Regions from separate parts of the Homo sapiens genome. Here all the other regions are linked to region 1. The links come from fine-mapping of genetic effects on gene expression. A gene starts in region 1. Each other region holds a variant in brackets. All regions are shown on one strand. Distances are from middle to middle. Region 1 holds the start of AGO2 (argonaute RISC catalytic component 2). Region 2 overlaps AGO2 (argonaute RISC catalytic component 2). Region 3 holds the start of TRAPPC9 (trafficking protein particle complex subunit 9).

Region 1 (10,458 bases):
AATTGACACTTGTTTACATCATTATATACTTGGCTTCTTTGACAATTTTTACTTAATGTTTCTCCTCCTATGAAAGATAGGTTGCTGTTTTGTGTGTGTGTGTGTGTGTGTGTGTGTGTGTGTGTGTGTGTTTTGAGACAGCGTCTTGCTCTATCACCCAGACTAGAGCGCAGTGGTACAATCACAGCTCACTGCATCCTCAGCCTCCCTGAGGGCTTAGGTGATCTCCTACCTTAGCCTCCTGAGTAGCTGGGACTACAAGCACACAATCATGTCCCACTAATTTTTGTATTTTTTGTAGAGATAGGGTCCCACTCTGTTGCCCACACTGATCTCAAACTGTGCTCAAGACACCTGCCCACCTCAGCCTCCCAAAGTGCTGGGATTACAGGTGTAAGCCACCATCTTTAGTGAAAGATAGCTTTTATTTATCTCTTTTAACTCCAGAAAATGCTACAAGCTGGATACACCACATCCACACAAATCTCCCAAGGACTTTGTAGAAGATGCATTGGGATGAATTTGTAACTCTTGACCTTAAACAATTTGTGGCAGCATCTCTCATGTGCTCTGGGTGGTCTTCACATCATGCTTAGGAACACCAGCTGGGCCAGGCGTGGTGGCTCACGCCTGTAATCCTAGCACTTTGGGAGGCCAAGGCGGGCGGATCACAAGGTCAGGAGTTCGAGACCAGCCTGGCCAATATGGTGAAACCCCGTCTCTACTACAAATACAAAAAATTAGCTGGGCATGGTGGCGCATGCCAGTACTCCTAGCTACTCAGGAGGCTGAGGTAGGAGAATCGCTTGAACCCGGGAGGTGGAGGTTGCAGTGAGCTGGGATTGCACCACTGGCACTCTAGCCTGTGCAACAGAGCGAGACTCCATCTCAAAAAAAAAAGAAACACCAGCTGTCCTCAGGCTGGGGCAAAGGAAGGCAAGGGCACCCACACCTCATAGGTGAGACACCATCCTTTGAAGAGGAACTAGATTCAGAGTTAAATTTAGGGGGCTGTAAGTAAGTGTGCCAGACTAAAAAGCAGAGATCAATGCCTGCCTGAAAAAAATACAGTTTGAAAAGAAAAAAAATAATAAAACAAACAAAAAGAATGCAGTTTGGCTGTGCATGGTGGCTCACGCCTGTAATCCCAGCACTTCGGGAGGCCAAGGCAGACAGATCACTTGAGGTCAGGAGCTCAAGACAAGCCTGGCCAACATGATGAAACCCCATCTCTACTAAAAATACAAAAAATTAGCCGGGTGTGGTGGCATGCGCCTGTAATCCCAGCTGCTGGGGAGGCTGAGGCAGGAGAATCACTCGAACCCAGGAGGCGAAGGCTGCAATGAGCCGAGATGGCACCACTGCTCTCCAGCCTAGGAGACAGAGCAAGGCACTGTCTTAAAATTAAAAATTAAAAAAAAATGGCAACTTGAGAGGAAACAGAGGGCCAAAATGAAGTACCTCTTGTCTAGAGATGGTTACCTGAAGAAGCAGAAGGTGTGGCCTGTATTCAGACACGCTCACCAGTCAAGGGAACACCACATCCAGGCCCCTCCACCCTATCCTGCAAAGGGGGCCCAGCTGGCAGACCCAGTGGAGGATGGCACTGGCAGATTTTAAAGAGGTTATCATGGCCTGTTTTTGTTTTGTTTCTGAAACAGGGTCTCACTCTGTCACCCAGGCTGGAATGCAGTGGCACAGTTATAGCTCACTGCAGCCTCGACCTCCTGGGCTCAAGCAATCCTCCCACCTCAGTCTCCTGAGTAGCTGGGACTACAGATGTGTGCCACCATGTTCAGCTAATTTTTTTTTATTTTGTAGCGATGGGGTCCCCAGGCTGGTCTGGAACTCGTGGCCTCAAGCAATCCTCTCACCTTGACCTCCCAAAGCACTGAGACTTTGGGCACAAACCACTGCATATGGCCTGCTTAGTTTTTTTTTTTTTTCAGATGGAGTTTCGCTCTGTCCTCCAGGTTGGAGTGCAGTGGCACAATCTCGGCTCACTGCGACCTCCGCCTCCCAGGTTCAAGTGATTCTCCTGCCTCAGCCTCCCGAGTAGCTGGGACTACAGGCGCGTGCCACCACAACCAGCTAATTTTTTGTATTTTTAGTAGAGACAGGGTTTCACCGTGTTAGCCAGGATGGTCTCTATCTCCTGACCTCGTGATCCACCTGCCTTGGCCTCCCAAAGTGCTAGGATTACAGGCGTGAGCCACCTGCTTAGTTTTTAATTAAAAAACAAAACAAAACAAAAAACCAGTCTGGGCATAGTGTCTCACACTTGTAGTCCCAGCACTTTGGGGGCTGAGGCTGGTGGATCACTTGAGCCCAGGAATTTGAAACCAGCCTGGACAATATGGTGAAACATCATCTCTACAAAGATTAGCTGAGCCTGGTGGGATACTCTTGTAGTCCTAGTAACTTGGGAGGCTGAGGTAGGAGGATTATTTAAGTCCAGGAGGCTGCAGTGAGCTATGATTGCACCACTGCACTCCAGCATGGGCAATAGAGTGAGACCCTGTCTAGAAAAATACAAAAACAAAAAAAATAAGGTCAGGTGTAGTGGCTCATGCCTGTAATCCCAGCACTTTGAGGAGGCCAAGGTGGGAGGATCACTTGGGCCAAGCAGTTCAAGACCAACCTGAGCAACACAGTGAGACCTGTCTCTACAAAAGTTTTTAAAAATTAGCCAGGCATGGTGGCATGCACCTGTGGTCCCAGCTGCTCAGGAGGCTGAGGTGGGAGGATCACTTGAGCCTGGGAAGTCAAGGCTGCAATGAGCTGTGTTTTCGCCACTACACTTTCACTTTGGTGATCCTGTCTCAAAGTATATATTACTCAAAGAATCATAGACTATTAGAGCTGGAAGGGATCATAGAAGACCTCTACCTCTGTGTTTCCTAAATTATGCTCCACGGAACCTTGAGGTACCTCGTGAAAAAAGGGTTCTGTGGCTAAATGGGTTTGGGACAGGTTGCATACTGTCTCATGCCCTCCTTCCTCTTTGTAGAAGCATGATTCTTCTCACCTTGCTACAGGCTCTGAGAAGGCCTGCAGACAATAAACTTATTTATCATTGTTTGATCCAGTGCTTCCCAATTTACTTGACTTCCCAAAGCTGCTTTAATCATGTGCAGAACATGTTTTAGGAACAAATGATTTATTCCATTGCCTGCATTTTAGTCTTGAAGAAACAAAGTGCCCCCAAAGCCGAGGGCTTTGTCAGCCCTGTGGCCTCAGGAGCTTTCTCTGTACTTCCCCTCACCCCTTCTTTCTCTCTCATGGGGAGCTGGTGCTTTAGACTGAGTGCACCCAGTGTGCAGAGCTGCAGGCCAGGCTGCTGCAAATGTCCCTGGCTGTGATTAGAGCCCACGGTCTTATCAAAGCATCAGGATCCTAAAACACAGAGGAAGGAATTGTATCAGGGAGAAGCACTGGGTCCAGAAGACCCAGAGTCGGCTGAGTCACCATCCGGGTGTGGGACGTGGGTCTGGGGGACAGAGCAGCAAGGGCTGGAGACATGTCACAGCAAGCACCGAGACGCACAGTCAGATGAGTTAAGCAGGTTCACTAATGGCAGGAGAGGTAACAGGCAGAGGGGACTGCAGTTCTCAGCTCCGTTGGGTGGTGGATCTGTTAGCCATGCTGAGTGAGGGACACCAGAAGAAAAGCAGGTTGGGAGGAGGGTAGGGATGGGGCTGCAGGAAGCGGGCTGAATTCCTGAACACAGGTGTGGAGGGTAGAGACCTGCAGAGAATGGGCTTATCTAGGAAAAGAGCAGAGGGAACCCCGTGCCCCAGAGGGCGAACCCAGTGACTGCATGGGCCCTGGGGATAGAGATGGGGCAGGCAGCAATGGCACCCCTCCGCCAGCAGAGGGCCACGGTGTCCGCCATCCAAAGAGAAGTGACACAATGAAGCCCTCAGAGACATTATCTTGCCTTCTGGAACGAAATCCTTGCAACAAAGTTCCCCAACACAGCGCTCAAAGGAGCTGAAGGCGGGCTGAGGGCAGCCAGTGATGACAGAGCCTTCTGGGCCTTTGCTGAGGCGTGCAGTCGCTGACAGCAGGGCAGTTGGGCCTCAGGGATTTCGGGCCAAAACGAGTTTTGGGGATATGTGAAGGAGACAGGGGCAGAGAGAGAGGGTGGGCATCTGCGAACTGGGAAGATTGATGAGGTTGCATGGTTCATAAATAGGAAAGTGGTAACATTCATGATTATTTAAAAATTTCCGTGAAATACTACAGTAAAGGTACAGAAAAGCATATAAAGTAAAAGTGCAGTTTAAGGGATGGCTGCCAAAGGGCACCATTGCAGGAAGGAACAGGCCTGGCACCCCCAAATCCCCCAGGGGCCCTGCTGTGGTCACAGCCCTCTCACCCCCAGCTGTATCCACCATTCTGACACTTAGAGTAAGCACCTTCTTGCCCTTCTGTCAATTATTTACTACTTAATGATGCTTCCCTAAAGAATGCAGTTTAATTTTGCCTGTTTTGGAATTTTTGTGAATGGCTAGATTCCATCCTGTGAATATGAGCACACTGTTTCTCCATCCTGCTCTCCGTGGGTATTCAGTGCCATGCAGTCCAAGCGGTGATGAAGAATGCCATGCACACTCCTACCCAGGTTTCCTGGTGTTCATTACTACACATTTCAGGAGCACGTTTTGTATCGGCAACTTGGTGAAGACTGATGTCCTTTTGAGTTTTCGGAGGAAGTGCTGGTTCTCCTGCCCTTCTTCAGGGCTGTCCTCCGAGACTGCAGAGAACTAGTGACCACCCTGCTGGCTGCGGAGCTCCTGTCAGTCAGAACTCCTGTTTATTCTCCGCCCGGAACAGGGCCTTGCACCCATATGCAGACAGCCGATGCCACGGGGTGAAGGAATGCTCCGGGAAATCTGGGAAAAGGCGACCAGGCACTTTAGATTGTGGGTCAACCTCTGCCTTCTAATCCTCCATCACTTAGGGGAGAAAGGAGGTAGCCACAGGCTGGCTTTTCCAGGAAAGCCTCCGAAAACCAGACGGACCCAGAGGGACCGGACAGAAACGCTCGGAGGTGCACGACGGTCCGAGCAGGCCCCTGACTGCTGGAATGGGCGTGTCCGCTGATCTGATCCCTGATACCAGCTACAGTTTACTAAAAACTTCTTAGATTTTCTCAGTGCTTTAAACGGATTATCTGGGTTCTGGGGCCGCGCCGGGAGGTGGCGGTGTGGTCCTGCGCGAGCGGCCGGCCGCGTTCAAGTTCAAGCTCCGGGCTGGGAGGGAGCTTCCCGACCTCCGTGTTTCTGTAGTAACTTAAAGAGCCAGGCTGGGGGCCGAGGGGCTGAGGGTGGGAGGGTTCTGCGCCCCCCACCGGGGGGCGGCGGGGAAAGCGGGGGCGCGTGGCCTCCCCTCCGGCTCCGGCGGCACAGCCGGGGGGCCCGGCTCCTCCCCGTCGGGAAGACGCGGCTTCTCTGGGTGGCAGTGAAGGGTCCCCGGGGCCGCGCCCGCCCCCGCGCCACACGGGCCGCGCCGCCCTCGGCCCTCGTCCCCGCTCCCGCCCGCGGTTCCCACCGCCCGGCGAGGTCTCCGGGCCCCTCCCCGGGTCCCCGCCCCAGGCCCCGCCAGACCCGGCGCCGCCGCCGCCGCCGCCGCGGACCCCGCCCGCGCGCCCAGCCCCGCTCCCCCCGCGAGCGCGCTCCCGCCGCCGGCCTCGCCTCCCCTCCCCCTCCCTCCTCCTTCCTCCCCCGCCCCTCCCGCTCCCGCTCCCGCCGCCGCCTCCGCCCGCCGCCCCGGCCGCGTCGGGTAAACCTGTTTGGCGAGGCGGCCGCGCCGGGGCGGATCGTGCGGCCGGCGGCTCCCTCGCGGCTCGCGGCGTCGGGGCCCGTGGCGCGCGCGCGGCCGCCCCTCGGCCCCGGAGCCCCTCGGCGGCGCCACCATGTACTCGGGAGCCGGCCCCGGTGAGTCCTGGCGCTCGGGGCGCCCGCCCGGCCGTTCGCGCGCTCCTGCCCGTGGTTGGCGGGCCCGGCGCGGGCGGCAGGGGCCGGGGATCGGGGGGCCGCGGGGTCGGGGCGGCGGGGGCCGGGGGCGGGCGAGCCGGGGCCGCGCTTGGGGGCTCGAGGAGCGGCGGCGGCGGGGCCGAGCCGGCCGTTTTCTCGGCCCCGCGTTGGACGCGCAGCCCCGGCCTCCTCGGCCCCCGCGAGTCGTCGGGGCGCCCCGCGCGGCCTGGGCCCCTCCCGCGCCTCGGGCCCGCGTCCCAGCGTCCTCGCATCCCCCGCCCGGGGCCCGCGGGCTGGGGCCGGGGCCGAGGCGGCCGCCGCGTGTAGGCCCGAGGCCCGGAGCGCCCCGCTTGGCCCGGCCTCGCTGCCCGGGCGGGGATGGGGGCGCCGCAGCCCGGCCCGGCCTGACCCTGAGCGCCTGAGCGGGTGGAGGCCGGGTCGGGGCGCCCGGCTCGGGGCGCGCACGGGCGGGAGGGGAGGGGGCTGCGCCGGTCCCGACCCCAGCCGCGGTGAGTCTGTGGCGCGCTCCGTTGTGGCCCTTCTTGTTGCCGGCACTTCTTCGGCCCCTTTTCCCAAGGAAAGTCTGGAAATGCTGAATTTTGGCCAATTCCTGTAGTTAGGGCTGTCGCCTGGAAAGGGGAGGACGCGGCTCCCCGGAACCCTCAAACTGCGTGCGCGGCTCGTTCTCATTCCAGACACGCCGGCCTCCCCATTCAAGTGCTAATTCCTTTTACAATTTCCTAGGAGAGGTGAGGCGAGGTGGATTCCTGTAGCACCCCTTGTTGCTAGTCGGCCTTTCTCTGGAAAAGTTCTAAAAAACTTAAAGCGGTAACGCGTTGTTTTTCTTTTTAAATGCAGAGTAGAAGGCGGTCTCCTTGGTGGGCCAAAAAAACGGTCAGGTGTTCTCCTGCTTTTGGCGTGCTCCCACCGGGCACGTGGCTCCTGGCTCTCTCGGCCGGCCTGGCCGCTGGGACGGGGCACCGCCTGCTCCCCTTTGTCCGCTGGGCCCCAGCCGGGCCGCAGGCGGCGCAGGCCCCGCCGGGCTCTGGGCTTATGTTTACCCGGCCGGGCGAGGAGGCTCGCATTCCCGATGCTGCCCTCGTTGCTGCAGACCGGCCCCAAATTGTGGGGTCCGGAAGGCCCCCTGGCCCACCTTGGTCCGTTGATGGTGGCCCCCACTGCTGGAGCTGTTGGCTCTGTGCCTTGCGAATGTCGCGTCTTTTTTCTGATGTCATTTAGAAAGCTTCAACAAGGCGGAGTCTGACCAACTTTTCAACCCCTGAGGGCCATCAGCAGTTTGAAGAATGATTTTCCCCCTCCACCTGGGAGGGGCCGCAGTCCTGGAGCAGGTGCTGGCCTCTAGAGGCCTTGGGTGGCCAGGCCCCCTCTTGGGAAAGGACCGGGCATCCCCTTGTGAGTTGGGACCTTCCAGCTCCTCTTTGTAGAGGAACCCAGCTTATGGGACTGACAGCACTACATTTTTTCAGGTTATCGGTTTTAAAAGTTGGAGGCCCAGAAAAAGTGAAGAGGCTTTAAGGAAGGTCAAGCTTTCTGTGTTGTGTTTTGCGTGTTACTTAATTCACTCCACTTGCTGAGGTTGGTGGTGTTTGTGAAGACAGACAGCCGAGGCTCACAGAGGTTGAGAACTTCACCAAGGTCACACAGCAGTGAGTGAGTATCAGGACAATCGGTCCGACTTCCGAGCTGGTTCTCTGGGTGCCTTCCTCAGGGCAGTCCCTTTCAAGCCCTATAACCCAGACCCACAGTAAGAAGTCTCTGTTAGGGCTGGACTGGACCAGCACCTGCCCGCATACTTGTCATTGACAGCGGGGCTTCAGGAAGCCACCCCAGCTCACTGCTGTACTGTGTGCACTGCCCCGGGATGCTGTCTTGTCGATTTCATTTTTCAGCGTACCTTGGCCCTCATGATCCACAGGCTCGTTTCTGTCACTCGCTGCTTTTTGGAGATTGTTGCCTTGGTGTGGGCCTGGTAGGGAGTGGACCCTCTGGAACAGGACAGTGGTTGAAAGAATAAATGTGTCTGCAGGATAATTCATAGCTAATGGCAGGATGGGAATGAACCCAAGTTTCAGGTTGTACAAACGTGCTGTAATTATAAGTCTGTGGTGCAGTTCCATTTTATGCTACACATTAAGGCTTTTAATTTTGTGTAAAAGGAATTTTTGGAATAGTCTTCATTGAGACTCTTTTTAATCTTATACTTTCTAATTTAGAATTATAAGACATTCAATTTGAATTATAGAAAAATTACATTGGGAGGCCAAGGCGGGCGGATCACGAGGTCAAGAGATCGAGACCATCCTGGCCAACATCATGAAACCCCGTCTCTACTAAAAATACAAAAATTAGCTGGGCGTGGTGGTGCACGCCTGTAGTCCCAGCTACTCGGGAGGCTGAGGCAGGAGAATCGCTTGAACCCTTGAGGCAGAGGTTGCAGTGAGCCAAGATTGCGCCACTGCACTCCAGCCTGGGGACAGAGTGAGACTTGGAGACTCCATCTCAAGAAAAAAAAAAAAAAGAAAAGAAAAATTACAAATAGTTTTGCTACTTCCAATTGTAACACCCTTATTAGGCAACTTACTAATTTAAAAAGCAGTTCACAATAGCTCTACATTATACCAATCACAAACAAATGCTGTGACGTATGTGAATGCTATTTAGAATCTGAAGTTAGAAATGTTACTATTTTTTCGTTTTTTGAACTGAGTTAGTTGTTTAAGATGGGTGGATTCTCCAATGACCTTGAACCTTCACTGATGAACAAATTAGTTTTTTGGTTTTTTAACCATTTAAAGGTCTTGATCTGTGTCTAGTGATTGCCTGCCCCCAGGATATTGTCTCTTATGGTTTTGCTACACTTTCAAGCTCCCGTGTGTTACACCCCTCGCAGATTTGCCACAAAGTAACCTCTGTGACATCTAAGACTTGACAGTTGTCTAAATAGGATTGTGACTTTGAGAAGAGCTGAACTTCACTGTGGTTTATAGAGCCATTTAACTCCTCCTGCCCCCTCTCCCCCTTCCCTCAGTGGTCCCCATGAAGGTATGGCCACTTCTCCCAATACTGGTGCCCATCTGCCATGGCAGGATATCACCCTCTACCCGTGGGGCAGTTGACATGGCCGAGGCCATCGCGGCATGGCTGGGTATTTGTGCAGAGTCCCCCTTGGGTCTTTGATAAACCTTGGGGAATAATTTAAGTAAGTGCATAGGAAAAAAAGATGTAAACGCTTCCAAACTCCTAAACCCTGTGCAATTTGAAGAAGCAGAATTATTTTTTAACTTCTAGTTTCCATGTCAAAAGTTTCCACAATGCCAGTTGGGCTTATTCTCTGTGTGTTGTACAGTGAATGCTCTCCTGTAATGGTCCAGTCTCATAAAATGTGGTTTTGTTTCACGAATCGTTACTGTGAATCTTCAAAACATAACATTTGAGTTTTAAAAATAGTTAATATTGTGAAATAATTGAAAAGACATAAAAGTAGAGTGACTCATTTAATACCCCTCCATTTATCCATTAGGAAGCTTTAGCAGTCATCAGGGTTCTCCACATTTGCTTCAAATATGCCCCTTTTCTTTGTGGACGTTTTCCAAAGTGAATTGCAGACCTGTCATTTTACCTCGATATTTAAATATGCGTGTCTAAAGCAATGGAGACGTTTTGAACATACCCCAGTGCCGTTATGACAGTTAACAGTCTGTGATCAATTTCTCTCATATTCTCAGAAGTGTGTTTCCAGTTGGGTGCTTTGGATCCTGAATTTTAACCAAAGTTCACACACACATTTGGGTCTCTGCCTTCCGCCTCTAAAGCTAGCCCACCCTCTCTCTTCTCCCTGCATTTGACTTGTTATATTTACGTCTTCTTTTTTTTCTTTTTTTTTTTTTTGAGACGGAGTCTCGCTCTGTCACCCAGGCTGAAGTGCAGTGGTACCATCTTGGCTCACTGCAACCTCCTCCTCCTCCCGGGTTCAAGCGATTCTCCTGCCTCAGCCTCCTGAGGAGCTGGGACTAAGCCACCATGTCCGGCTAATTTTCGTATTTTTGGTAGAGATGGGGTTTCACCATGTTGGCCAAGCTGGTCTCAAACTCCCAACCTCAGGTGATCTACCTGCCTCGGCCTCCCAAAGTGCTGGGATTATAGGCGTGAGCCACCACGCCCGGCCTACGTCTTTTAAAATCTCTTTTCTTCAGAGCATTCGTGCCTCCCCTCCCCCTCCGTTTTTTCTTTAATGGTTTTAGAAAGAGCCCCATTGCTCAAAATTTTTGTTTTTTGGGCTCCGTTTTGTTGAGGGGGGCTGTTTGGAGACCCAGTTGCTCATGGTTTTAATTCTGACACATTTAAGTGGTGTTTTGTTTTGTTTGTTTCTGAGGGTTGGGGTTGTTCTCTGTTGCCCAAGCTGGAGTGCAGTTACACAGTCATGGCTCACTGCGGCCTCAAACTCCTGGGCACAAGC
Region 2 (10,458 bases), 41 kb after region 1:
CAACCACTGCCTCCCAGGTTCAAGCAATTCTCCTGCCTCAGCCTCCCAAGTAGCTGGGATTACAGGCATGCGCCACCACGCCCGGCTAATTTTGTATTTGTAGTAGAGATGGTGTTTCTCCATGTTGGTCAGGCTGGTCTCGAACTCCCGACCTCAGGTGATCTGCCCGCCTCGGCTTCCCAAAATGCTGGGATTACAGGCGTGAGCCACCGCGCCCGGCCTGTGTTTTGGATCTGTAGACCCCATGACGCTGACTCCTCCGTGTGCTGCAGGAGTCTGAACAGAGGCCACAGTTAACACAAGGCTGGGAAGCAGAGGCCTCGCCAAGTGCAGGAGTAATTAAAGGACACATCTTTCGAGTAGACTTCATACATGTCCCACTTTTGTGCCTTACAGCTTTTGTTGTTTGTAAATGACATCTTTGTAAAAAATAACTTTTCTAATCGTTGCTCACACATAGGAATGCATTGTGGTTCAGCAAGCTGGCTGGATTCTTTCTGGCTCTAACAGTGTGCCTGCCAAGGCGTCTCATCTTCACAGAGGCTGTCACGTCGTCTGCATGTGTCTTTGTGTCCATTTGCCTTTTAAATCATGAGAGGGCAGGGCACAGTGGCTCATGCCTGTAATCCCAGCACTTTGGGAGGCTGAGAGATCCAGATCACTTGAGGTCAGGATTTCAAGACCAGCTTGGCCAACACGGTGAAACCCCATCTCTGCGAAAAATACAAAAATCAGCCAGGTGTGATGGTGGGTGCCTGTAATCCCAGCTATTCTGGAGGCCGAGGCAGGAGGATCGCTTGAACCCGGAAGGCAGAGGTTGCAGTGAGCCGAGATTGCGCCCCTGTACTCTAGCCTGGGGACAGACTGAGAACCTTGTCTCGGGGAAAAACAAACAAAAAAATCGTGAGAGGGTCTTGATTTCCAGACAGGTGAAGAGATGTAGATCATATAAGGGTTGTCTGCACATCAGGCACCTCATTTAGAGAGATGGCTTTGAGCACCCCGGGTGAGCGTGTGAAATTTCTCACTTAGGTGATGGCCTGGACCCCATAGGTAGTGTAAATTCAAAACGCAAACCTGGGAGTGTCGGACCTGGAGCTGCAGGTTTTAGGGGGTTGGGGGCATTCACAGGCCCTCCTGCTTTTCTTCTTTCAGCTCTGACTGCTCTTGGGCAGGCTTCGTCTTCATCATCACAAAAGACGTTGAACCCTTGGAATCCAACAGACTTTGTTTCAGATTCCAGCACGCGTTTTTCTGCTGTGGCCTGAGTGGTTACTTTGGCTTCCCCCGTCTCATGTATGAAACGAGCCGGTGATAATCCTGGTCACAGGATTTTGCGTTCTGGTTAAGAAACCACAGCGACGCCACCACATAACGGACGCTCAGCGCACATCTCTTTTAGATGCTGGCCTGTCAGTGGGATGGCAGAAACTATTCAGATGTGGTGACGATTCTGCTTTGGGGACTGCTTCCCAAGCGGGTGCATCCTGCCGGATTTTAACACTGCTGGGCATTGTGAGTGGTGGCAAGATGAGGAGGCCAACCCTGTAGTCACTGGGCTCCAGGTCTGCCTGTGAGCTGCGGAGGGCAGGGTAGAGTGGCCTCAGCGTGAGCAGCAGGATGGGAGCCTCGAGGGAGAGCTGGGTTTGGAGAAAGTGGCCTCTGTTGTCGCGTTTCTGTCATTGAGCAGATTGAGCAAAAGCAGAGGCAGGAAAACGCATGGGGAGGCTGGTGGTGCGAGCCCACGGTAGCCATGAGTCCTGCAAGGAGGTGTCTGGGTTTGGGCCCTGAAAACTTTGGAGAAGAGGTGGGTCTGCTGTACAATTGTCTTGTGCCATTTAAGGTAATTCTGCCCTGTTGGGGCAGGTGTAGCTCCAGTTTTCAGAGGAGGAAACGGGGTTGGGGAGTGGCAGGCAGAGGAAGCAGCAGGCCAGAGTCCCAGAGCAGATGGAGAGCAGCCAGCACGCGCTTCCTCCTGGTGGGGCTCAGACAGGGCTTGGCACCAGGGCTGTCGGGCAAGCGGGAGGAAGAGCTGCGGCTCCGGGGTGCGGTGCTGCCGCGCAGAGTGGACCGGTGATCCTACGGCACCGTGGGCTTGTACGCACAGGGAAATGGAGGCACTCCCAGAGGAGCTGAGTGTCAGGCCTGGCACAGGTTGGAGAAGAGCTAGGCATTCTCCTGGTAAAACCGTAGGAAAGATGGCTGCGAAGCAGGAGAGATGCAAACTCTCTCTGGGTAGAAATGTCAGCAGCATTTGGTTTTCCTCAAGTAACGGAACGCAAACGTCTGCTTCCTGTTGAGTCCTGCTGCCTTTGCCGAAGAGAATTCTTTTTGGTGCTGTGGCTTTAGAACACCTGGATAAAGCCCTGGAAGTTGTTCTCCAGCACAGAACACGCCGTCTCGGGGTTCAGACATCTTCCCATACGGGTCGTGGACGCTCTTGTGGGTGTCTGTTTCCTGACCCCGAGGTCGGCAGTGGCTGAGCTGCTGTGTGGGACCCCAGTCCCTCTTGCTGTCCTGCCTCATCTCCTCCTTTCTCACCCTCCTGGGTTAGATCTTGTACAATAGTAAGCTCAGTGTTCGACCTGGCACCTAGAAAGGAGAGCTGTGCGCCCTACAGCCCAGCATGGGGCCCCGCCAAGCATCTGCTGGCACTGGCACTGGCATCTACTGTGAGGCCCCTGGTGGGCAGGGTCATCTCTTGGTCCTCCCAGGTGGCAGATGACGCAACAGCCCGGTGATGAGTGGAACAGGCGTGTGCGTTTCAGCAGATGAGCAGGAGATGTTGATGGATTTTGCTGCCTCGCTGATAAAAATAGACATTTATTCTTTTCAAGACAGGCAGAAAGGCTAAGATGTGTTATAACCCTGTGGGACGGAACTCAGATGGCAGTTTTTCATTTTTGATGTCTTTTTTTTTTTTCTTGATTCCTTTTCTCTTAAAATTAGGCCTCAGAAGCTAATCCTGTAGATCAGGCTGAAGCTGACAGGAGTGAGGCTGAAGCTGACAGGAGTGAGCCTGAGATTTCTGAATGCTCATTTATTTCTCCTTCCATCCTCAAGATTCAGGCTTGAAGCCAGGAGGCCATCCCCCAGGAAAGGGCCCCTCACTCAGGCAGGGAGGCCTGGGGCGGGGGGGGGGGGGTGGGGGGGCCACCCAGCCCCCATCGGTGTCCGTGGCTGCTGCCAGAAACGGAGTCAGAGAAAGTAATGTCAGCCAGACTTCAACTCCAGCTGGGTGTGAGCACCTTATGCCACCGCTGCCCACGCTGCCCTGCATCCGTGCTGCGCTGCGTTGGCACTGGAGAGGCTGGGAGGCTCTGGGAATTGGAATCCCTGGCTGTGCTTGCCGGAAAGGGTGTATGTAAATGAGGCGGTTTTCCTGCCACCTCTGCAGATGATTCAGCCCAGCAAGTGTGAAGAGGGAGGGAACGTCCCTGCCAGAGCTGGGACACAGTGCAGGGGCGTGGTTATAAATGAACGAAACAGCTCTTCTGCTGAGTTTTTTTTTCTTCTATACAGTTCCTCTGTGAGTTCCCTTTAACCATGACGTAAAACCCATTTTGTGGCTTTAGTCTTCTATTTCAAACAACATGTTCACCAGCAACGGTGCAGAACAGTGGGACGCACTCTGGGGCCAGGGTGCCTGTCTGCACCTTGGCTGGCTGGCACCCTCAGGCAGGTCCCCCTGGGCTGGTGGGCACCAGGGGAGTTCTCCCGGACAGGGTTGTGTCTCGCAGGATGAGACAGCGGTCACGACGACACAGCAGCCATGCGATGACGTGGGCCCGTCCCCCACCCCGGCCACTTGCCTCTCCCCTGCTGCTCCACCGACTCCTCCCAGCCTGCAGGTGACCCGGACGTGCTGCCTCACCTGTAGATGCCACTTTGTTCATCTGTGAGACTACGCTGGGAAAATGGGCTCACTGCAGATCTTGCATTGGGTACTTTTTAAATCTCTCTGGGCATCTGTTAAATGGCATAATGACTATCTGTGCTTACATCTTAAGCTTCTATTTTGCTTTTTTGTTTGTTTGAGATGGAGTTTTGCTCTTGTTGCCCAGGCTGGAGTGCAATGGTGCCATCTCAGCTCACTGCAACCTCCGCCTCCAGGGTTCAGGTGATTATCCCATCTCAGCCTCCCGAGTAGCTGGAATTACAGGCATGCGCCACCGTGCCCGGCTAATTTTGTATTTTTAGTAGAGACGGGGTTTCACCATGTTGGTCAGGCTGGTCTCGAACTCCCGACCTCAGATGGTCTACCCGCCTTGGCCTCCCAAAATGCTGGGATTACAGGGCATGAGCCACCACACCCAGCCAGCTTCTGTTTTCTTTAACTTAGGGATATATCAGAGAAAAATAGAATGATGTATCCAATATTCATCCTTCTCCCAGAGTTTGTTCATTTTTTAAAAATAATTTAGTTTTAAATAACAAATATAATAAACCTACTTAAAAAATACAGAAGCACAGGCCATGTGCAGTGGCTCACGCTGTAATCCCAACACTTTGGGAGGCCGAGGCAGGAGGATCGCTTGAACCCAAGAGTTTGAGACCAGTCTGGACAACACAGGAGGGCTCCATCTCTATAATATGTGTGTATGTGTGTGTGTGTATATATATATAATATATATATTATATAATATATATAATTTATATATATTATATATAAAATATATATTATATAATTTATATACATAATATATATTATATAATACATAATATATATAATTATATATTATATAATATACAATTGTATATAATATAAATATAATATATACAATTGTATATAATATAAATATAATATATACAATTGTATATAATATAATTGTATATACAATTGTATATAATATAATTGTATATACAATTATATATAATATATAACATTTACATATTATATAATATAATATTTATATATAATTATATATATTTTATATGCCAGGCTATATATATAATATATATAGCCTGGCATATAAATAATATATATATAATATATATATATATTATATATATAGCCTGGCATGATGGCACACGCCTGTAGTCCCAGCTATTTGGGAGGCTGGGACAGGAGGATCACTTGAGCCCTATGATCGCACCACTGCACTTCAGCTTCGGCAACAGAGTGAGATTCTGTCTCATAAGATAAAATAATAAATAAAATAAGATATAAAACGAATAAATAGAAGCATAGAGAAGAGTGGAAAGACTATAGCTTGACCACTCAGGAATAATCACGATAAATATTTTGTTTTATAATTCTTCCTTAAGTTTTCCCTTTCATACCCCAAATGTGTATGTGTGCATAATATAGGACAGATGGGATTGCATCAAACACCATTCTGAAGCTTTTTCCCACTTACAAGTACATGGAGCTCTTGCCGTGTGATCAATGGAGAAGCAGTGTCACTGAACTGTCCTCACAGTTCATTTAACCCATTTTCTCCTGATGGACCTTTCAGTCCTTCTCAGTCTTTTCGTGTGTAGACGCCTGGGTATTTCCTTAGGACAAATGCCTAGGTGTTGAGTTACCAGATCAAAAGGCTTGTAATTTTAAAAGCCTTCTGAAACAAGCTTGAAATCTCCCCACATGGATGGGAGTGGCCATTTTTTCTCATGCACTATCCAGTCATATCCCTCACCATTTCCTGTTGGAGTTTTTGATTTCATTAGTTTATATAAACTCTGTATATGTACGTTTATACCTTTAGGTTTGTGTATTTATGATGTCATAAAAATTTCCCAGTTTGTCATGCAATTAGAGAAATACACACACACACACACACACACACACACAGTTTTTTTCTTTCCGTCGAGACGGG[T/G]TCTCACTGTGTCAGCCAGGCTGGAGGGCAGAGGTGTGATCTCGGATCACTGCAGCCTTGACCTCCCCAGGCTCAAGTGATCCTCCCATCTCAGCACCCCCGAGTAGCTGGGACTACAGAGGCATGCCACCATGACTGGCTAATTTTCTATTTATTTTTATTTTTTATTTTTTTTTGTACAGATGGGATTTTGCCATGTTTCCCAGGCTAGTCTCGAACTTGTGGCCTCAAGTGATCCACCTGCCCCGGCCTCCCAAAGTGCTGAGATTACAGGTGTTAGACACCACACCCAGCCAAAAATCATCCTTTTGCAACCTCTTTTTGGTTCTAAGAAAGAGGGCCGGGCACGGTGGCTCATGCCTGTAATCCCAGAAAGAGCATTCCCACCCCAAAACTATAAAAGGTTATTAAATTTTAAAATATTTCTGTGGATATTTTTGTTCCATTTAAAAATACTATCTATTTACAGTTTCTATTTGAAATTTATTTTGTAATAGGATGTGAGAGGGAGCTCACCTTATTTTTTTCCTTCAAATATTCAGAAAATTGTTCCGACTGAGTTATTTCTCTCCTGTCCCCTTAACTGGCAAGCCCCCTCCAGCCAACCCGAGTGCTGCCAGTGGCTTGCCTGCCCATTCAGGGAGATGGTGATGGTTTTCCTCCCTGCCCTCTTCTGAAGACGAGCGCCCTGAGAGCAGGAGTAGGAGGTGCTCAGGCAGTGTAGGGTGAGTGGCATCGTGCGTTGAGGTAGAGTTTAGGAAACCCTTAGTGCAGGGCTTGGCACCGGCAGACCTCACTGGTGGGCAGGTATTCCTGTGCTCGCAGATGGAACTGAGTGAACCTGGTGAGGATGGATTGTCACGCATTTGGTTCCTCCAGCTCCTTTTGTTTGATTTAAGCATAGTTGTTATCGATTCAAGGCAGCGTGGCTTGGTGGCAAGGCTTGTGTGCTCTGGTAGCCGTGAGTGCTGTGTGTGAATCCCAGCTCTGCCTGTCAGACACCTCGGACCACATCTGTAGGATGGGGATCCTGCCTGCCTTGCCCGTGGTAAGGATTAAAGGAGCTGATTTGCCTGAAGGGGTCTGCATTGTACCTGACACAATGGTGGTGGCCATTGCTTCTTCAATTATGGGAACTTATGTTAAAAAGGGAAGTAAACATTTTATGTAAATATTGAGAAAAGTACTAGGTATCTAGGATGAATCAGTTACTGTAAAAGGGCACAAAGTTTTTTTTTTTTTTTTTTTTTAACTTTCCTAGCTGCTTAGCACAGATACGAGGCATGAGGGTGGCAGATCAGTGTATGTCGGCCGGGCACAGTGGCTCACACCTGTAATCCCAGCACTTTGGGAGGCCGAGGCGGGTGGATCACCTGAGGTCAGGAGTTTGAGACCAGCCTGGCCAACATGGTGAAACCCCGTCCCTACTAAAAATACAAGCATTAGCTGGGTATGGTGATGCACGCCTGTAATCCCAGCTACTCGGGAGGCTGAGGTGGGAGAATCACTTGAACCCAGGAGGCAGAGGTTGCAGTGAGCTGAGATCACGCCACTGCACTCCAGCCTGGGCGGCAGCGAGACTCCATCTCAAAAAAAAAGTTTTGGTCTATTTTTATTGATACGTAATAGGTGTATATATTTTCAGGGAACATACATGTGTTAGGTAGGTCAGATTCTTGTATGTTTTGGGTGAAAAAAGGATTCAGTTTGGAGAACAAGACTCTTTCTGAAGTACAAGAGATGTCACATGGACCCTCATCAGGGCGGTCAGCTGATTTGATGGCTGATGTTGGTGGAGGGGCAAACTGGAAATCACAGTCCTAGCCCTGTGGTCTGCTGCCCAGGTGCCCTGGCTGTCACCTCACCCCATGGAGCTCCTGGCTCCTCAGCTGTGCAATGAAGACAAGTCCAAGAGCGAGGACATGAGAAGAGACAAGAATGTGCTGGAAGTCTTGTACTGGAGTAATGTTGATGCTGGAGAAATGTTGGCTTCTTAGTTGAAACAGGCTGGGTGCTGTGGTGCATGCCTGGAATCTCAGCACTTTGGGAGGCCAAGGCAGGAGGATCACTTGAGGCCAGGAGTTTGAGACCAGCCTGGGTGACATAGCAAGACCCCTGTCTCTACTAAAAAGGATAAAATATAAAATAAACAAACAAACAGTAAAGACTATTTGTAAAAGGTAGAGTAATAGCCTTCCTATGGATACCTTATGGTTTTGTCCTAAAAACACTTGGGATTGAGTCATAAACCCATAAGGCATTTTTACTAAGAGTTGGTGTAACAAGAAGATATTCTTTTATTCATCTGTGTATTCATTCAGTCAACAGTTGCACAAAAACAGACACAGTCCTTGCTATATTGCAGTGCCTACATTCTAGTGGGAGAGGCAGATACAGAGTCGGAATCACAAAAGAAATCTAGAGTTGAAACCAGAAAAGGCTGTAGAGAAGAGTCAGAGAAATGTACGCATAAGGCATTCTTCATGTCTCCACTGAGAGGTGTCAGGCTTCGAGCAGCCCTGGACCAGCGTGCGGGTCTGTCTTGGTAGGGCCGGTGGTTGAGATGCTGTGGTCTCATCAGTTGCCCCGATTGGGGAATGTTTCTGTAGGAGATAACTTACATTTTACCAGTATTCCTTTAATTCCTCTTTGTCTTTATTATAGTATTTTTTTTTTTTTTGAGACAGAGTTTTGCTCTTGTTGCTCAGGCAGGAGTACAAGGGTGCGATCTCAGTTCACTGCAACCTTCACCTCCCGGGTTCAAGTGATTCTCCTGCCTCAGCCTCCCAAATAGCTGGGACTGCAGGTGCCTGCCACCATGCCTGGCTAATTTTTGTATTTTTAGTAGAGATGAGGTTTCACCATGTTGGTCAGGTTGGCCTTGAACTCCTGACCTCAGGTGATCCACCTGCCTCAGCCTCCCAAAGTGCTGAGATTACAGGCTTGAGCCACTGTGCCTGGCCTTATTACAGTATTTCTAATATTGTTCAGTAAAGACAGATGGTGGATCAAAGAGGATGTTTTTGACTTGTGAGGAAAAATGTATTCATAATTTATGGGGAAAAGTTTTCTTCGTAAAGATCACAGGGGTGGCTTTCAGGACCATTTCTCAAAGAGATAATGGTGGTTGCAGTTTCAGGTTGAACCACAAACATTTATTTTAAAAAACCCCAACAGGAAATTCCGTGTTGATGGTTAGTCATCTGCGGGAGCTTAGGTGTTTGTTTATAGTCAGTCCTAGACTGTACGGGTGTGTCATGCTCTTCCTGTGCACGCTGTATTGCTCACTAAAATAAGGTTAACATATTTTCAGGCTATTACTCATTAAACCAAAAGAGGGGAGCAAGTGGTTTAGGGATGATCATCAGTCTGATCTGGAGGCGCAGGCTGCCTGTGTCGGCCTCAGCGCAGCGTTCCAGTCTTCCCTGGGGGAGTTCTCCCTGCTGTCCTTGCCCAGCACCTTCTACAGCCCCTGCCTTTGGGGTGACTGCTCCCCTGCTCACGTTGCCTCCCATGGCCCATTCTTTTGGTGTTGCCAAGAACCAGGCTGAGACAGGTTGGAAATGCTCCAATAATTTCTACTCAGGGAGAACAGAAACGAAAGCCTTCCAGGAACCGCGCCTGCAGAACACAGAAGTGCTCAACAGAAGTGCGAAGATGCTGCTGAGGACAGCTCCGCTGCCCCCGCTGTGAGGACTGCCCCCACCCGGGGCTGCACCCAGAGCTGCACCCAGAGCTTCCTTCCCTCCTTCATTCCGACCCAGCCTTCCCATGGGCCCAAGGGAGTGAAGGCAAAAGCTCCTTCTCAGCGTGTGGATGCAGCCAGGGAGCAGTGGTGGATGGCTACATCCTGTGTCCCCATGCCCACAGGAGGAGGGGTAGGGGCCATTTCCTAAGCTGGGACCCATGAGGTCCTGAGGCTGCAGCAGGATCTGTCCCCAGGGCAAAGGGGCCCTAGGGCTCTGGTTGATGGCCAGCATTCCCCAGAACGTATTCTCTGAGCCTGTGCACCAGCTCCCCGTTGCCACACTGAGACCCCCTTGGTGGCATCAGCTGGCTCCTGAGACGATGCCCCTGGTTCCGAGGAGCACTGATGCAGTGGCTCCTGCTCAGGGCTGGAGGGTGCACTCTTCCTTCCTGATGCAGAGCTCTGGCTAGAGGCAGGAGCAGCCTCCCCTGTGGAGGTGGGTGACCGGTGGCCAGCGAGGTGGGTTCTGTTGACTCCCTTCCACCGTGGGGCATGTTTGTGCCTCCGCTTCCTCGGCGTCTGTTTTCGGACAGGTTTTGTGGCCAGAAACCTGGGACCCCCATCTGTGCCTCTGCTTCCTTGGTATCCGTATTTGGATGGGTTCTGTGGCCAGGGACCTGGGACCCCCATCTGTGCCTCCGCTTCCTCGGCGTCCGTGTTTGGGCAGCTTCTGTGGCCAGGGACCTGGGACCCCCAAAGTGCGAGGGTTCCTTTTCCTCCCCGTCTTGTCACATTTGACTTTTGGTGTGTCCTCACAGATCTGGGGGGCTCCAGAGCCCCTGTCGAGGTCAGTTTGCCCCAGTTTGGGAGTCAGACCGGGGGGAGGGGGTAGAACGCATCAGCTGGGGACCCAGCTCCAGCCATCCCTGCACAGCTGTGACGCCTGGGCCA
Region 3 (10,458 bases), 180 kb after region 1:
TTACCATCGTGTTATTTTGAAGGAAGAGTTATGAAGGTCTAACCAAGTAGCTGGTTCTTAGTTGTGCTAAATAAGTATAGTTATTTTTTCCCTCCATAGCCTGTGAGCTAGAAAGCCCAGGTGAGACATGACACTATGGAGTCCTATAACACGGGAAGGAGAAGAAACTCTTTATGGTACTGGTGGGGGATCAAAACCCTTGAGAGGTGCTGGCTTTTGTGCAAAGTGGAGTGATTGGATCACCCAACCGGAACACCGTTAGCCAGGACATAAGCTGGAATTGTACCAGGAAAGTAAAGCTATATGGTCACCTTACCCTGAGGCTGTACAAGTAGCATGTGACAGAATTTGTCCATTCTGTCTCAAATTGCCTTCTCACACTTTCTTTAATCCTAATGATAGCCCTATGAAATGATTATCCTTATATAATAACTGAAAATATGGAAGGCAAGTAATTAGGGAGTGATGGAGCAGGGACTCTGTCCTAAACTTTTTTTTTTTTTTTTTGAGATAGGGTCTCACACTGTTGCCCAGGCTGGAGTCTAGCCTGCACTTTTTTTTTTTTTTTTTGAGACGGAGTCTTGCTCTTGTTGCCCAGGCTGGAGTGCAGTGGCACGATCTCTGCTCACTGTAGCCTCTGCCTCCCAGGTTCAAGTGATTCTCCTGCCTCAGCCTCCCGAGTAGCTGGGATTACAGGCGCCCACCACCACGCCCGGCTAATTTTTGTATTATTATTATTATTTTTAGTAGAGACGGGGTTTTGCCATGTTGGCCAGGGTGGTGTCAAACTCCTGACCTCGTGATCCACCTGCCTCGGCCTCCCAAAGTGCTGGGATTACAGGTATGAGCCACCGTACCTGTCCCAGCCTGTACTTTTAACTCACAGCTGTGATAATTGTCAACCTCAGCAAGCCTTGTGGGGCATTAGTCCCATATATAGATTATATATATATTATATGTGTGTGTGTGTATGTGTGTGTGTATATATATTTAGACAGAGTTTCACTCTTTGCTCTGTCTCCCAGGCTGGAGTGCAGTGGCACGATCGAGCTGACTATAGCCTTGACTTTCTGAGCTCAAGCAATCCTCTCACCTCAGCATCCCAAGTAGCTGGGACTACAGGTGTGCACAATCGTGCCGGCTATTTTTTAAATTTTGTGTGGAGATGGGGTCTAGCTATGTTGCTTGGGCTCATCTCTAGCTCCTGGGATCAAACAATCCTCCCTCCTTGGCCTCTCAAAATGCTGGGATTACAGACATGAGATACCGAGGCCAGCTTGGTCCTATTTCTTGAGACCCCTTGACTGGATGTTTCAGGGAAGCATATTCTGGCTGAGTTTACTGGATAATTTTCTTGTAGAGCTTGTTATGAACTGAATGTTCATGTTCTTCCCAAATTCATATGTTTAAATTTATTCCCCAATATGATCATATATGGATGTGGGGCCTTTGGGAGGTAATTAGGTCATAAGGGCAGAACCCCCATGAATGGGATTAGTGCGCTTCTAAGAAGAGACCAGGCTGGACACGGTGGCTCATGCCTGTAATCCCAGCACTTTGGGAGGCTGAGGCAGGTGGATCACCTGAGGTCAGGAGTTCGAGACCAGCCTGGCCAACATGGTGAAACTGTGCCTCTACTTAAAATACAAAATTAGGCCGGGTGCGGTGGCTCATGCCTGTAATCCCAGCACTTCGGGAGGCTGAGGCAGGCGAATCACCTGAGGTCGGGAGTTTGAGAGCAGCCTGACCAACATGGAGAAACCCTGTCTCTACTAAAAAATACAAAAAATTAGCTGGGTGTGGAGGTGCATGCCTGTAATCCCAAGTACTCAGGAGGCTGAGGCAGGAGAATCGCTTGAACCCAGGAGGTGGAGGTTGTGGTGAGCTGAGATTGCGCCACTGCACTCCAGCCTGGGCAACAAGAGTGAGACTCTATCTTAAAAAAAAAAAAAAAAAAGAGACCAGACAGCTAGTTTGCTCTCTATCTGTCATGTGAAAATACAAGAAGCCAGCCATCTGCCATTCAGAAGATGACCTTCATCACACCCTACCCATGCTGGCGCCCTGATCTCAGTGTTGTTCTAGTAATTTCTTATATCTGCCCAAACCAACTAAGACAAATAGCCACATCATCAAAGCATTCTGCCTGTTAGGACTTTTGTAGAGGGGAGAGAGTGTGAGTATGAGGTTGGACCTGGTTATTTTAGAAATTCCTTCCAACCTTAGATGTCTGTAAATTCCTTGAGGGCAGGTTTTGTATGTTTGAATTGTCACCCTTCAGAGGAGATGCTTAGGAAATGTTAAAGATGCTAAAGGAGCACAGCCCCAGGACCTAGACAGTACGGGGACTGCTTTGGATGTTCTCATTTGATCATTGTGGGCTGGGCTGTGGCAGGCTCTTACACTCTCTGAGCCTCCGTTTTCTCATTGGTAAAAATGCAGAGTAATAATACCAGCACTTTGGGAGGCCGAGGTGGGAGGATCATGAGGTCAGGAGTTCGAGACCAGCCTGACCAACACGGTGAAACCCCGTCTCTACTAAAAATACAAAAATTAGCCGAGTGTGGTGGCGCGCACCTGTAATCTCAGCTACTCAGGAGGCTGAGGCAGGAGAATCGCGTGAACCCGGGAGGTGGAGGTTGCAGTGAGCTGAGATCGTGCCACTATACTCCAGCCTGGGTGACAGAGTGAGACTCTGTCTCAAAAAAGTAAATAAATAAATTTAAAAAAAAGCAGAATAATAGTCCCCGCTCTCCTTCCCCCACAGATTTGCTGAGACAGCAACATAAATTGATTGAAGTGTGTACATTGCAAATAAGCAATGTTTCCTTTTGCCAGCTTTCAATCTTGCTTTCCAAGTTGCTTGCCTTATCCACTTACAGACAGAATAAGAAAAGACCTATGCAAAAAGTAGAGTCTGTGGGGTCTGACAGCCCTGGATTTGAATCCCTAAATAGCACCAGCCATTTGTGTGACCCCAGCCAAGTAGGGTATCCTTTCTGGACTTCAGCACTAAAAATAGCTCCCTTGCTTGGATCTTATGAGGTAAGCTTGGAGCCTAGTTTCTGCACTCAGACCTCCATTAGCAGTGGCCTTTTAAATGTATCTTTTCTGTATTCTCTGTTAAGCCCATACGCTCTTTTGTTTATTTATTCATTTAAAAAAAATAAAAAAAACCACTTTTTTTTTGAGACAGGGTCTTGCTGTCTCTCCCAGGCTAGAGTGATCATGGTTTACTGCAGCCTCGACCTGGCTGGACTCAAGCGATCCTCTTGCCTCAGTCTCCTGAGTAGCTGTGGCTACAGGTTTGTGCCATCCTGCCCAGCTAATTTTGGTATTTTTTCCAAGAGACAGAGTTTCCCTGTGTTGCCCAGGCTGGTCTTAAACTCCTGGGCTCAAGCAATCCGTCTGCTTCGGCCTCCCAAAGTGCTGGGATTACAGCTGTGAGCCACTGCACGGCCTCCATGCGGTCGTAACACCATGAGGTAGCCACGTTGGGCAGCTTGTGCGTTGTCAGGGAGACACTCTTCCTCAGCCCCTGGGCACCTCTGTTGAAAACTTCCTGGCTGTCTGGCAGGCTGGAAATCAGCTCTATTTGTTTTGCCCTGAAGATATGTTTTATTTATAACTCATTCTGACTCTGTAGAAAATAATTCAATAAAAACTCAATTGGTTTTCCACTAGCCCTGAGCAGGGATGAGGGATAGTATCTTATTTTATAACACATGTGATAATAAAACAGCCCTGGTCACATAGCCCAGAGCGGGTAAGTGCCTGCTGGCTGAAAGGAAAAATGCTGGCTCAGACCATTTCTCCCTTGCTGCTGTATGTGCTGAGAAAACCACTCCTGTCCTCTTTACTTTTCCATTTTAGGATTTTTTTTTTTTTTTTTTTTGAGATGGGCTCTCTCTGTCACCCAGGCTGGAGTGCAGTGGTGTGATCTTGGTTTACTGCAGCCCCCGCCTCCCGGGTTCAAGAGATTCTCCTGCCTCAGACTGCCTAGTAGCTGGGATTACAGGCATGTACCACCACGCTCAACTAATTTTTGTATTTTTAGTGGAGACTGGAGTTTCACCATGTTGCCCAGGATGATCTTGAACTCCTGACCTCAGGTGATCCACCCGCCTTGGCTTCCCGAAGTGCTGAGATTACAGGTGTGAGCCACCACACCCAGCCCTTTTTAGTGTTTGTTGTTGTTGTTGTTTGAGATAGAGTTTTGCAGTTGTTGCCCAGGCTGGAGTGCAATCGCATGATCTCGGCTCACTGAAACCTCTGTCTTCCAGGTTCAAGCGATTCTCCTGCCTCAGCCTGCTGAGTAGCTGGGATTACAGGCGCGCGCCACCACATCTGGCTAATTTTGTATTTTTAGTAGAGACGGGGTTTCACCATGTTGGCCAGGCTGGTCTTGAACTCCTAACCTCAAGTGATCCACCCGCCTCAGTCTCCCAAAGTGTTGGGATTACAGGTGTGAGCCATTTCTCCTGGCCAGGATTTTTTAATTGAAAAAGAAATACATGTACATGTTAAAAGATTCAAACAGAACATTAAACATACATAACGGAGAGCGGCTCTCTGTTTTCAATTTTCCCTGCGGATGCCACTGTTAATTCATGTGCTGGGCATCTTAAGTCTGTAAGCCTCCCCCATCTCCTGCTTTATTTTATTTTATTTTTGAACCCAGAGGGGTTTAAATCCTTAAATGGCTTCTGCCCGCACTTAGCAAGCTTGGCGCCTTGGCACTGAACTAACGACAGCTGTCCTAGCCCCTGTCGCCTCTTTGGAACCTTTTATGTGGATGGATTGTTGGGGCCCTCAAAGTCGGGAGTGCCATGGTGCCAGCTGGGGATCAAGACCGCGCGCCACACAGGGGGAAGCCGGCCCAGGCTGGGGCTCGCACCTCACGTGCCTCCCGGGCCCTGCGATCCTGGAGGCGCTCCCAGGCCGCGCGCGCCACGGTCACCCACCCACGTGGGGGGCACGACCGTGGGAGTCACGGGGGGTACCGTGAGGGTCACAGGGGGTGCCGCAGGGATCCACAGTGGGCTTCCGCGGGGCCTCCACCCCTGAGCTTCACAGAGGAAGTGAAATTTGAGCTGCGCGCCCTGAAGGACTGGTAAGCGGCGGGGACAGAACTGGGCCTCCTTCCAGCTGCGCCGCCCCAGGTGCAGAAGCTTTCCTCCTAGTCTCTGTTCTCTTGCTCCGGTCCCTCCCTCCCTCCTCGCTCCATCTCCCTCCATCTCCCTCCTTCCCTCCTCCTCTTCCTCCCTCCTTTCACCCCTCCTTTTTCCCTCCCTCCTCCCTCCTCCACCCTCTCCCTGTCCCCCGCTTCTCTCTCTCGCTGCCCCTCCCTCCTTCTTTCACCCCTCCTCCTCCTACTCTCCTCCTCCTCCCTCCCCGTCCCCGCTTCTCTCCCTCGCTCCTCCTCCCTCCTTCTTTCACCCCACCTTTTTCTCTCCCTCCTCCCTCCTCCTCCTCCCTCCCCATGTCCCCTCCCTCCCTGTCCCCTCTTCTCTCCCTCGCTCCTCCTTCCTC[T/C]TTTCTCCCTCGCTCCTACCCCCTTGCTTCCCTCGCGTCTCTTGCAAAACCCGGGACGGATCGGGGGCCCAGGCCTGGCCTCCGCGCACGCGCAGGAGCAGCGCCGGCTCGGCCGCCAGTAGGAAGCGCCAGCCCAGAGCCTGGGAAGTGGCCGCAGAGGCTGCTCGGCCCCGCTGCCCGCCAGGTCGTGGGCTCCCGCTCCGGGCCCGGGGCCACCGGCTGTGTAAGTGCAAAGCGGGGGGGCTCCCGGTCAGGCAATTCGGACCGGCTGCGGGGAGGGCTGCGCGGCTGGCCGTGGAGTCGGCGCGTCCCGCGGAGGGGCTCGCCCGGCCCTCACCTGTCCGGGCGGAGCCCGCCACACCTGTCCGGGTCCGCTGCCGGGCCGGGGTTCAGCGTGCACCTGCTCGAGGCGCCCTTGCTCCTGTTGGCGCTCTGCTTACATCTGTCCAAGGCCGTGTCCCACACCCGCTGAAGACTCGGCGGACACCTGTCCGGGACCCGGCCCACACCTGCTGCCCGGGCCGGCTCTGCTCTCCCGAGCTCGCGGCGGGGGTCCCCTTCCCCTCTGTGCCTCCGAGCTGTCTCCGCCTGGCTTCCCCTCCCGGGCCGTCCGCGGCGCTGGAGCCCCCCGCCCCTGGGCCTGGCTAAGCCCACTGGAGCCCGCGGGGTCTGGGACGCGCGGCTGGGGCCTGGGGCCCAGCACAGCCCACGCCCCCGGCGCTTTCCCCGCCCTGAGTTCCCGGACTTCTCCCCTAGCCCTTTCCCTCCTGTCTCCTGGATTCAAAGTGCCTGCGATCTAGCTGGGCGGCATCAGGCGGTGCTCTCTGGGATAAGCGCGCTGTCAACTCCAACTTATCCCAGGGAACCCTGGGGAGAGGAAGTCAGGCTACTGGCCTGTGGTCTTCTCCCTGTCAGCCCACCCCAATCCCCTCCACCCCTGCAGACCTTCCCAACGTGAATGTCTGTTAACCGAAAGTTTTCCCGTGTTAGGATGCGTTGTCTGTCTTCAAATGTTTCTATAGAGAGAGGAATTAAAACGCTGGAAGCAAGGCCCAGTTGAAAGGTATGGGGGAGTGACTTCCCTTCCATCCCTCACGGCCCCAGTTTAAACTGGTGACTGTCCCGTGTTTCTAAGGTAGTCATAGCTACCTATGACATCTTTATTTGTTAACCTGAAACAAAGCACCGGGTGGATGATGTTGGAGGCCCAGGAACATTGCCGTCCTAAAGATCTGGCTAGGTTTTGTTGTGTGTGTTTGTTCGTTTTTTTAATTGTGTGGAGGACTAGTAGTGTAGAGGGAAAAACAGTTGTCCGGAAACATGTAAACAATAAATGTTTCAGAAATCTAGTGTGTCAAAAATAACAGCTTCATTGAGCCTCGATTACCTGCCATAAAATCCACTGCTTTAAAGTGTACAATTCAGTGATTTTTCTTTTTTTTTTTTTTTTGAGACGGAGTCTCGCACTGTCGCCTGGGCTGGAGTGCAATGGCACGATCTTGGCTCACTGCACCCTCCGCCTCCTGGGTTCAAGCGATTCTCCTGCCTCAGCCTCCTGAGTAGCTGGGATTACAGGTGCCTGCCACCATGCCCGGCTACATTTTTTTTGTATTTTTAGTAGAGACGGGGTTTCACTCTGTTGGCCAGGCTGCTCTCGAACTCCTGACCTCGTGATCCACCCGCCTTGGCCTCCCAAAGTACTGGGATTACAGGCGTGAGCCACCATGCCTGGCCAATTCAGTAATTTTTAGTATATTCACACTTGTGTTACCATTGTCATTCCAGAACATTTTCATCACCCCAGAAAGAAACTCCATACCCATTAGCAGTCACTCCTCATTCCCCCCTCCGACAGCCCCTGGCGGCCACCGGTTTACTTTCGATATATATAGATTTGCATATTCAGGGCATTTCCTATTAATGGAATCATACAACATGTGGCCTTTTGTATTTAGCTTCTTTCATTCAGCACAGTGCTCTAAAGTTATTCATGTTGTGGCTTACATCAGCACTTTGTTCCTTTCTGTGGCTGAATAATATTCCATTGTATAGATTTAACATTTTGTGTATCAGGCAGTTGATGGACATTTGTGTTGTTTTCACTCCTTAGCTATTAAGAATAATGCTGTGCCTGGCCAGGCATGGTGGCTCACGCCTGTAATCCCAGCACTTTGGGAGGCCGAGGCGGGCAGATCACGAGGTCAAGAGATCGAGACCATCCCGGCCAACATGGTGAAACCCCCTCTCTACTAAAAATACAAAAATTAGCTGGGCATGGTGGTGGGCGCCTGTAGTCCCAGCTACTTGGGAGGCTGAGGCAGTAGAATCCCTTGAACCTGGGAGGCGGAGTTTGCAGTGAGCCGAGATCGCGCCACTGCTTTCCAGCCTGGCGACAGAGTGAGACTCCATCTCAAAACAACAAACAAACAAAAAACAAGAATAATGTTGTGCCTGTAATCCCAGCACTTTGGGAGGCTGAGGCGGGTGGATCACCTGAGATCATGAGTTCGAGACCAGCCTGGACAACATGGCAAAACCCTATCTCCACGGAAAATACAAAAATTAGCCGAGCATGGTGGCTCACGCCTGTAGTCCCAGCTACCCGGGAGGCCGAGGCATGAGAATCGCTTGAACCTGGGAGGCAGAGGTTGAGGTGAGCTGAAATCCTGCCACTGTACTCCAGCCTGGGTGACAGAGCGAAACTCCATCTCAGAAAAAGAGGAATAATACTGCTATGTACATTCCTGTACATGTTTCTGGTGTGGACACATGTTTTCAGATCTCTTGGATTGCTGGTTTTATAGTAGCTCTATGGAGGAACTACCAAGTTGAAGATACATATTTTTGCTGTTTTAATACCTGTATTAGCTTAGTCTCAGATACCAGAACTGGCTCAGTGGCAGGTGTCTTTTTTTTTTTTTTTTTAAAGAGTCTTACTTTGTCACCCAGGCTGGAGTGCAGTGGTGTGATCTCAGTTCACTGTAACCTCCTCCTCCCTGGGTTCAAGCGATTCCCGTGCCTCAGCCTCCCAAGTAGCTGGAATTATAGGTGCATGCCACCAAGCCTGGCTAATTTTTGTATTTTTAGTAGAGAAAGGGTTTTGCCATGTTGGCCAGGCTGGTCTCGAACTCCTGACCTCAGGCGATCCACTCGACTTGGCCTCCCAAAGTGTTGAGATCACAGGTGTGAGGTCAGGTTGTGTTTTTTTTTTTTTTTTTTTTGAGAGGGAGTCTTACTCTTATTGCCCAGGCTGGAGTGCAGTGGCGTGATCTCGGCTCACTGCAACCCCCATCTCCTGGGTTCAAGCGATTCTCCTGCCTCAGCCTCCTGAGTAGCTGGGATCACAGGCATGCGCCACCACGCCTGGCTAATTTTTTGTATTTTTATTAGAGACCGGGTTTCTCCATGTTGGTCAGGCTGGTCTCCAACTCCTGACCTCAAGTGATCTGCCTGCCTCCGCCTCCCAAAGTGCTGGGATTACAGGTGTGAGCCACCACACCCGGCTGATTATGCTGCTTTTTAGATGAGACGATAGTTTTTATTTTTAAATCATTTTTATTTATTAATTTTTTTGAGATGGAGTCTCGCTCTGTTACCCAGGCTGGAGTGCAGTGTTGTGATCTTGGCTCACTGCCTCCTCCACCTCCTGAGTTCAAGCAATTCTCCTGCCTCAGCCTCTGGAGTAGCTGGGACTGCGGGTGTGTGCTACCACTCCTGGCTAATTTTTGTATTTTTAATAGAGATGGGGTTTTGTCATGTTGACCAGGCTGGTCTCTAACTGCTGACCTCAAGTGATCCTCCCGCCTCTGTCTCCCAAAGTGTTGGGATTACAGGTGTGAGCCACCGTGTCTGGCCGAGATGATACTTCTAAAATAAGGCCCTTTGTTACCTGCGGTGGGCCGCGCTCTCCTCCTCTGTAGAATGAAGGCTTCGGTGTTTCTCAGCTTCTGTTAAACCTGTGCCTACTTTTGAGAAACATGAGCGCTCCAGTCTCCCCCGCTCAGTATTTTGATATGTCCTCCGAGGGGTTTTATGCCTCTTTGTTGGAAGGTGATGTGATTTTGGTTCTTTCGAAGGTGGTTTTTGTGTGCAGAAAAGACTCTTTAGGGAATCGTTGTGGGGAAAGGGCAGGAGAGAGTGGGGCGTCGTCCTTGAGAGCGTGAGCACTGGAGTCAGGGACTTGGGCTGAGTCACACACATGTAATATACTTGTGAACCGTTTAGATCCTGGGCAGAAGCAAGACATGTTGGGAGGCTAGGGTTTCCTTTTTTTAAAATTTAATTTTGTTCATACTTCTCTATCCATGTGTATTTTTGAAGTCTGTAGAGGTGGGGTTGTGATGTCCAGGATAGCCCCCGACACACAGTCCTCCTCCTCTCCGTGCAGGTGAGAAGCTTGCCATTAGAATTTCACAGAGGTCTTATAGCAATGTCACTTTAATCTTAGTGTCACCTGGGAGGGTTTTACTGCCACGATCTCTGCAGTCAGGCTTTGGTGACCTGAAGGTTATGCAGTTTTGGGCTTCCTATTTAAGAAAAAGAAAACAAAATTAAAAATGCAAAATTAGATAGAGGGCCATGGAAGGGGCCTGAAGCTGAACCCCATTAGCTCATGGTACAGCTGCCTCTGGCCATGGGGACCATGGCCAAATCCCCTCAGGAAGTGTCAGCCCACTGATGGGGACAGTGGAGGTGTGTATCGAGGCATCTTTTTCTTATTTGATACAGAGAGCTCATTTAATCTCCCTAACCTTTAAAAAAATTAGACTTTTTATTTGAGACTATAGTAGTTGTAGCTCCATGTGCATTTGTCAGAAATAATACTGAGGGATCCTATATACCTTTTGCCCAGTTTCCCCCCGTGGTGCCATGTTACAAAACCACAGTATGTTATCACAACCAGAATGTTGACTTGCTGACACCTTG

What was found. PIP is the estimated chance that this variant, and not a neighbour inherited with it, causes the effect.
Region 2: its variant is fine-mapped to the expression of AGO2 in whole blood (INTERVAL, PIP 0.91).
Region 3: its variant is fine-mapped to the expression of AGO2 in whole blood (TOPMed, PIP above 0.99).

The regions. Positions count from the first base shown.
Region 1 is chr8:140,630,969-140,641,426 of GRCh38, reverse strand. It overlaps AGO2 (argonaute RISC catalytic component 2), which reads left to right and starts at 5,794. Exons shown (of 19, transcript NM_012154.5): 1 at 5,794-5,942. The coding sequence starts at 5,921. It overlaps ERICD (E2F1-regulated inhibitor of cell death), which reads right to left and starts at 7,192. Exons shown (of 1, transcript NR_170171.1): 1 at 3,144-7,192. RefSeq lists silencers at 5,230-5,629, 6,280-6,449, 6,933-6,982 and enhancers at 6,789-7,555, 7,556-8,323, 10,389-10,458.
Region 2 is chr8:140,590,162-140,600,619 of GRCh38, reverse strand. All of the region lies in intron 1 of AGO2 (argonaute RISC catalytic component 2), which reads left to right. Among named protein-coding and RNA genes, the nearest start is that of ERICD, 39 kb to the left of the region's middle. RefSeq lists enhancers at 1,298-1,387, 1,398-1,467, 2,848-2,897, 2,627-3,129, 3,478-3,817 and 3 more. The variant T/G (reference allele first, on the strand shown) is at 5,820.
Region 3 is chr8:140,452,936-140,463,393 of GRCh38, reverse strand. It overlaps TRAPPC9 (trafficking protein particle complex subunit 9), which reads left to right and starts at 5,650. Exons shown (of 23, transcript NM_001160372.4): 1 at 5,650-5,755. RefSeq lists silencers at 4,796-5,105, 5,226-5,465, 5,556-5,945, 6,056-6,105 and an enhancer at 4,878-5,396. The variant T/C (reference allele first, on the strand shown) is at 5,533.